Homo sapiens: one gene and its partner. The gene in region 1 interacts genetically with each later gene. Each region holds a gene or a part of one and is shown on either strand. Other genes may lie near its edges. The genes, in order: KDM5A and ING3.

Region 1 (3,828 bases):
AAAAACAGCATGGTACTGGTACCAAAACAGATATACAGACCAATAGAACAGAACAGAGGCCTCAGAAATAACACCATACATCTACAACCATCTGATCTTTGACAAACCTGACAAAAAGAAATGGGGAAAGGACTCCCTATTTAATAAATGGTGTTGGGAAAACTGGCTTAGCCATATGCAGAAAGCTGAAACTGGATCCCTTCCTTACACCTCACACAAAAATTAACTCAAGATGGATTAAAGACTTAAAGGTAAGACCTAAAACCACAAAAACCCTAGAAGAAAACCTAGGCAACACCATTCAGGACATGGGCATGGGCAAAGACTTCATGACTACAACAACAAAAGCAATGGCAAAAAAGGCAAAATAGACAAATGGGATCTAATTAAACTAAAGAGCTTCTGCACAGCAAAAGAAACTATCAGCAGAGTGAACAGGCAACCTACGGAATGGGAGAAAATTTTTGCCATCTATCCATCTGACAAAGGGCTAATATCCAGAATCTACAAAGAACTTAAACAAATTTACAAGAAAAAAACCACCCCATCAAAAAGTAGGCGAAGAATATGAACAGACACTTCTCAAAAGAAGACATTTATGCAGCCAACAAACATATGAAAAAATGCTCATCATCACTGTCGCTAGAGAATTGCAAATCAAAACCACAATGAGATACCATCTCACACCAGCTAAAATGGCAATCATTAAAAAGTCAGGAAACAACAGATGCTACAGAGGATGTGGAGAAACACGAATGCTTTTACACTGTTGGTGGGAGTGTCAATTAGTTCAACCATTGTGGAAGACTCTGGCAATTCCTCAAGAATCTAGAACTAGAATTACCATTTGACCCAGCAATCCCATTACTGGGTATATACCCAAAGGATTATAAATCATTCTACTATAGACACATGCACACATATGTTTACTGCAGTGCTGTTCACAACAGCAAAGACTTGGAACCAGCCCAAATGCCCACCAATGATAGAATAGATGAAGAAAATGCAGCACATATATACCATGGAATACTACGTAGCCATAAAAAAAGATGAGTTCGTGTCCTTTGCAGAGACATGGATGAAGCTGGAAACCATCATTCTCAGCAAACTAACACAAGAACAGGAAACCAAACACTGCATGTTCTCACTCATAAGTGGGAGTTGAACAACGAGAACATATGGACACAGGGAGGGGAACATCACACAGCAGGGCCTGTCCAGGGGTGCAGGCCTAGGGGAGGCATAGCATTAGGAGAAATACCTAATGTGGTTGATGGGTGCAGCAAACCACCATGGCACGTGTATACCTATGTAGCAAACCTGTACGTTCTGCACATGTACCCCAGAACTTAAAGTATAATACAAAAAAAATTATGGTTAAGTAATCTACCTTCTATAGTCTACAACCTATAATAACTCCTATACCAACAAGTTAAGGAGGGGAAGATAAATTTAGATGTGACAGCCTAAGGACACAAACCATTTAATCCTCTCTACAGGTTTTCAAACCTAGAATCTTACCAATTGCTCTTAATACAAGTATATGTCTGACTGACAATATATAGATTACAGTAAGTCTTCATGTAATGTCATTGGTAGGTTCTTAGAAACTGCCTTTAAGCAAAAGGAAGTATAGTAGCAGGTCTTTGAATAAAGTTGTTTTCATTTCATTATAACAGTGATGAGGGGGAAAAATAAGTTCAGCTTGCAGATCAGCTTGGTACTGCCCATTAATCTCATTGTTACACTTAAAGTCCTTGCAATGTTAAGTGAGCTCTGATTAGGTCTATGATTCTCCTTGAAATTAGTTTCCACAAGCTCACCTACATAGACACAATCCCAAAAGATGCAGGACAGACTTTGCTTCATTAAATATGTACCTCGTAAGTAATGATTTTCTGGATGGTAACTAAGATAAAATGACTGATTTTATTTTACTAAATAATTACCTACCCCTCCTCCTAAACCAAGAGGGGGCTCTTCCTCAAGCAAGAATACTAAGTTCAAAGTATTTTAAGTTATGAATTTATGGTCACAACAGAGGACATCACACAAAGGAAAAAACCACCAGGTCAAATGCAAATAAACCGGCAAATAAAATTTTCATTATACAATTATCGCTTGCTCTGTGGGAAAATGCTCAAGAGTATAGGCTTTTTTTTTTTTTTTTTTTTCATTCAAAGATATCAACATCAAAGTAAATTGGCAGGGGTATATAGCTCAGTGGTAGAGCATCTGACTGCAAAGTAAATTTGAACTTGAATTACCATAAGTCTTGCCACCATTCTTCTCAGCTGTCAAATACATTGCTAACACTAGAAAATCCATAATCTTATTTTTCTACCCTGCCAATACCCACTACCAAAGAGACAGTAAGCTAAGATTCTCATATAAATTCCTCCACAAAAAGACTACTCCATCCAACCATATGAAACTGCAGTTGTGATCCCTAGTCCTGAAAATCATCAATACTTGTGATGTTTTCATAGGTTACCAGTCTGCTTTCAAGCAAAGCCCATCATGTTAAGCAATTCTAGAAGAGTGGCTGATAGCTAATGTGCTAGAAAGCAACCACCAAAAATATCAAAGGCCTCTAACTAGGGTAAACGGGTGATTCCAGTATTCAAGGAAAAAGCTAATTATACTTGGCATGGGTTGCATTTCTTTTCAGCTGCTCTTAGTCACCCTATATACAACTTCGTAAACAAAGATAGTCATTAACTTCTGGATAACAACGTGCTTAAGAATGTACCGCTGTGTGTGGTATAAGCTAGTGTACCTTTCAGCAGACTGCCAATGAATTCTTCATAATGGGATTTAGCAGTACACTAAGATGATATTCAAGAACTGTACGCAACTGTAATGCCTCTTTTCTTAATAATGGCCCTCAATCAGCCCTTGAAAATCAGTGCAACAAAACTTGGCCATCTGTTCACAAAACTTTCAAAACTGAAAAATAATAATCTACCATATAATAAGATATTTTAATATAAAAAAAGATTATTTGAACAGTCTAATTCAAGTTTCAACTGTTTTCAAGTCTTTAAGTCACATAACTGAAAATTCCCATTTCTATCTTGAGAAAAAATATTTCCCAGCAGAGGAATCTACGAGCGTCTATGATGGATGGTTTTAATTTTATATCCTAGGAGTTTTAATGCTGATGAGATTAATGAGCAGTACCATGCTGATCTGCAAGCTGAAAAGACAAATAAAAGATAGTGAAGGGGTAGGAACAGAATCTCCCCTTGTTCTCTGGAAGCAGCCTTTTGTATCAGAGTAGGAATTCCCAGGTTACAAGAATAGATTCTAAACAAAGCAACTAAGAATCATATAAAACAAGTCAATGGATTGACTGTAATCTGGCAGGGTCTCTGCCTAATCACATTGTTATTACTAGGTTAAAAAGCAAAGGGCTTGCACCTGACAAAAAGGGCTAACGAAAAGCCAACTGGATCCAACACAAAACAAACTTGTCAAAACCTTCTCTTCACCACCAGTAACGTGTCATTACCAAAATAATCACATTGATGGTAAATAATTTGTTGTATCTGCAACTGGAACTCAGCAAATTCTAACCTGGGCCCAAGTATTATATTACCCATCTCCGAATGTGACATTCTATCTAGCACCATCCAGACGAGAAAGCAGAGCAAAAGACTCTAGCAATGGAAGTGTTTTTTTTTTTTTTTTTTTTTTGAGACAAGGTCTTGTGCTGCCCAGGCTGGAGGGCAGTGGTGCAATCATGGCTCACTGCAGCCTCGACCTCCTAGGCTCAAAGCAATCCTCCCACTTCAGCCTCCCAAGTAGCTGGGACTACAGGTGTGT
Region 2 (3,828 bases), on another chromosome or scaffold:
TGTATACTTTTCTCCCCCTTCTTACAAAAGTGACATTTGCTGTAAATACTGAGTATAAAGAAAAATGTTACCCATAATCCTAGCCCTCAGATACAACCTGTAACTAAACATTTTTGGTATACCACTACCATATACCTCATGTGCACATTGGCTGCCTTAATAAAATACAACAGACTGGGTAGCTTAAACAACAGAAAATAATTTTCTCACAGGTATGAAGGCTGGGAAGTCCAAGATCAAGGTGTCCACTGACTCAGTTCTGGAGGAGGGCTCCCTTCCTAGATGGAGACTGCTGCCTTCTCACCGGGTCCTCACATGATAGAGGGAGAAAGAGTGTGCTCTGGTGTCTTTTCTTATAAGGGCACCAGCCTTGTCAGAGTAGGACCCCACTCTATGACCTCATTTAACCTTTACCACCTCCTCACAGGCCCTGTTTCCAATTATAGTCACGTTGGGGGTTAGGGCTTCAACATATGATTTTGAGACATAAGCTTGCATTTCATAACACGTGTCTATGCAGATTTGCACATGCATGTGTGTATAAGTTTGTCAGTAGGAACCACAGTGTATACTTTCTTGTTACTGGCTTTTTTCTCTAAATCAGGTATACCGAACATGATTTTTCTTTAAGATCATATTTTTAATTTTCACATAGTTATCTCTTATGCCATCCAGTGTAGTTTTCTTAACCAATACCTAGCTATAGATTATATTAGTGGTTTTAATTTGTTTGAAATTAGGGATAATATTACGATAGGCATTTTTTAAATGTAATCCATTTTATACATCTAATTTCTTGGATAATCTTTTAGAAATAAAATTAGGCTGTAAATATTTGACAGACACCAAAATATATTTTCTAGAAATTTATTACCAAAAATTAATAAACATACCGGTTTACTAAACCCTGTCCAACACTGGATATTATTTTCTTTTAAAAACTAAGTACCAATTTGGTAGTTTTATATTATGATTGTTTTAAATACACTAGTATTATTGAAGTTGGACATTTTTTGACCATTTTTGTTTTTTACATTATGAATCGACTCCTAATGGTGTCGGCTGATTTTTCTATTGTTTTTGTTATGTACTCTAAATATTTGCTTGATTTAGTTTTTTAAAAATAATTCTAAAATTTTAATTTTATGTAGTTATGACTGTTAATTTTTTTTTATGAAGCAAGCCATGGATTATATACTTAGAAGGGCTTTCTCTTTGGCTCTTCTTTCTACAAAAAATTGTCTTGTATAATATTTTCTCCTAGTTTTTATATGGTTTTGTCTAGTTCTTTGCATGCTTCAGTTTCTTCACATTTAAGACTTAGTCTATCAGCAGATTATTGTGTCTAACAGTATGAGTTGCCAGTCTGATTTTTAAAAATTTTAACAATTTGTTAGCTGTTCCACTATCACCCGATAAACATTTTTCAGTACAAATGATAGAAAAGCATATCCTGTATCCTGACAACAAAAGTAGATTACTTGCAAAAGAACAAAATCAGACTGAACCTAGAGTTTTCCTCTGTAACACTAAAAAACTAGAAGGTGATGGAATATGTCTGTAGAGCTTTCAGGGAAAAATTAAGAGCCCCCAAAAACTTGATATTCAGAGAAGTTATTTCTCTGCATAGGACCATGTAAATATATTTTCACTCATGCAGAGAATCAGAAGATATGCCATCTAGTTAATCCTGTCTGAAAAATTATTCAATCCACTGAGAACTTCAGTGAACTCAAGAATTAGCAAGTTATGCCCTAAAGTGCTGGTGATGAAGAGCAAAAGAAAAATGAGAAAGGACATAAAATAGATAAGTTTAGAAGTTTCAAGGAAGGAGACTATTAATTGCAAAAATATAAATGACCTAATGTGACCCAAGAAGTAAAAACTTTCAGTAAGTAAATAATCAAGAAAGGAACTTAAAATTTTTACAATAAGAACTACCCAGAAAGATGACTCCTTCATCCGGGTGATTTATATGTCAAGTTCTTCCAGACTTCTGAAGGGCAGATAATTCCTGTGCATTTCTTCCCACCCTTGCCCCACCCTGCCCAAAAGAGTATTTCAGGAAAAAATTATTATACCTTGATTCTCAATGTAATTGTATATTCAGTGTATTTCCCTTTATTTTCCAGCAGTATCATACATAAACAGTTAATTGGTATCTAGGTGTTTGTTACATAGTCATAATAAAGACATTTAATTTTTTTTAACTAGGTATCTTATGGTGAGATGGTGGGATGTGATAACCAAGATGTAAGTATTACATTTTTCTATTTAGGAATGAAAAAAATCACAGGTTGTTATTACTTGAATATTTGTCTTATTTGCTGTATGGTTTGGTCTAAGAAAACAGGTTTGCAGGTATATTAGTTATATTATGCTAATGCTAGAATATTCCTCTTCAAAATAGGGTAGTGTCCCTTAATGTGTTCCCTATTTTAATTTTTAAAGCTAATTTTATGGTTTTATGTGCAGATTGTCTCAGAAGTGTTATGTTGTATGAAAATTATAAATACCCTCCTTTCCCTTTACTAAAAAATACTGTGTTTACTAGAATCCAGTTCATTTATCACATTGAAGAAATGGAATTTTAAAACAATTCATTCTTTCAGGCTGCACCGTGCTAAAGTGAAGGGTGGGATAATTGAGGATCTAATGTGAGATTATCTTCCTCTCATGAGTATAATATTTTTTCCTGTACTCTGCAGGTGTCAGCTGATAAGAGCCACCCCTGATCTAAAAAGTAAAGGAAATTTGAAAGGAAGGAATTCTTGGTTTTTAGGAGACTTAATTTTAGTTAGAGATACGTTTTTTATTCAATACTGAGAATATTGTTGTCTAGTAATTTTGACTCCCTCCTTATTTAGTAGTGACAGGATCCTAAGATTAACAAGAGTTTTAAATTTGTAAAACAATCTGAAGATTGAGGGAGCTGGCTAGGTGCATTAAAATGTGTACTTTTCCTAGACCTGATAGGGTTACAGCAACATGCTCACGTAGATTGGGACAGAGCCTCCTTCTGTTTCCCTGTCTAGAATCCCTTGTAGGCTGTTTGTGGTTGTTGCAAAAACAATATTGCCCAACCATTTCAAGAACATCACTGTAAACTCTTCTGGGGCAGTTAGTGAAAATGATGAATGAGATTTCTATGAGTACCAGCATCATGCTTCTCTGATTCTTCTTATTCCCAGTTGTGCTCTTCTGAGTGCTAAGACTTTCATGAAAGAGTTTTCTGCTTAATATGTTTCAAAGAGGAATAATTTTTCTCTACATTTCAAGGAATAGAAACACCCACGTAGGAAATGCAGGGCATAAGACATAAATTAATGTCTTTAATTACAATCAGCTTATTCTACTTTATGAGACAGCAAATAAGGCTGACTATTAAATAAAATCTTAAGTTATATTTACCTTCTACATAGAAGATTCATCCCACTTCTTTTTGCCCTTGAAAGCTGAAAACTAGTGAATTTTCATTCATTAGGATGAGGGGACTAGATTACATGGACCTCAGGATTCTTGAAGATGCATAATTTTTCTGTGCCTTCATTTCCTCATTCCTGAAGCTTATCATTTAGTCTAAATGATGTCTAAATAATCTAGATCTAAAAATTCTGATGTCACACATCTAATTATTGTTAAATTAAATGGATTATTCAGTCTCCTGAGCATATTTTAATATACTCTCTTGTCTTCAGAAGTACTGAAAACTTGTTTTTTGCAATTTTGCTTTCTAGTGCCCTATAGAATGGTTCCATTATGGCTGCGTTGGATTGACAGAGGCACCAAAAGGCAAATGGTACTGTCCACAGTGCACTGCTGCAATGA

The links.
Region 2: changes in KDM5A (region 1) and ING3 together harm fitness more than expected from each alone (negative genetic interaction), as found in Homo sapiens cells (one large-scale study listed by BioGRID).

What each region holds. Positions count from the first base shown.
Region 1 is NC_000012.12:302,293-306,120, forward strand, and holds part of KDM5A (lysine-specific demethylase 5A), read right to left. Parts: intron 1-3,828. UniProt on the Homo sapiens protein: Histone demethylase that specifically demethylates 'Lys-4' of histone H3, thereby playing a central role in histone code. Does not demethylate histone H3 'Lys-9', H3 'Lys-27', H3 'Lys-36', H3 'Lys-79' or H4 'Lys-20'.
Region 2 is NC_000007.14:120,970,991-120,974,818, forward strand, and holds part of ING3 (inhibitor of growth protein 3), read left to right. Parts: intron 1-210; exon of another isoform or gene 211-355; intron 356-2,214; coding exon 2,215-2,253; intron 2,254-3,737; coding exon 3,738-3,828. UniProt on the Homo sapiens protein: Component of the NuA4 histone acetyltransferase (HAT) complex which is involved in transcriptional activation of select genes principally by acetylation of nucleosomal histones H4 and H2A.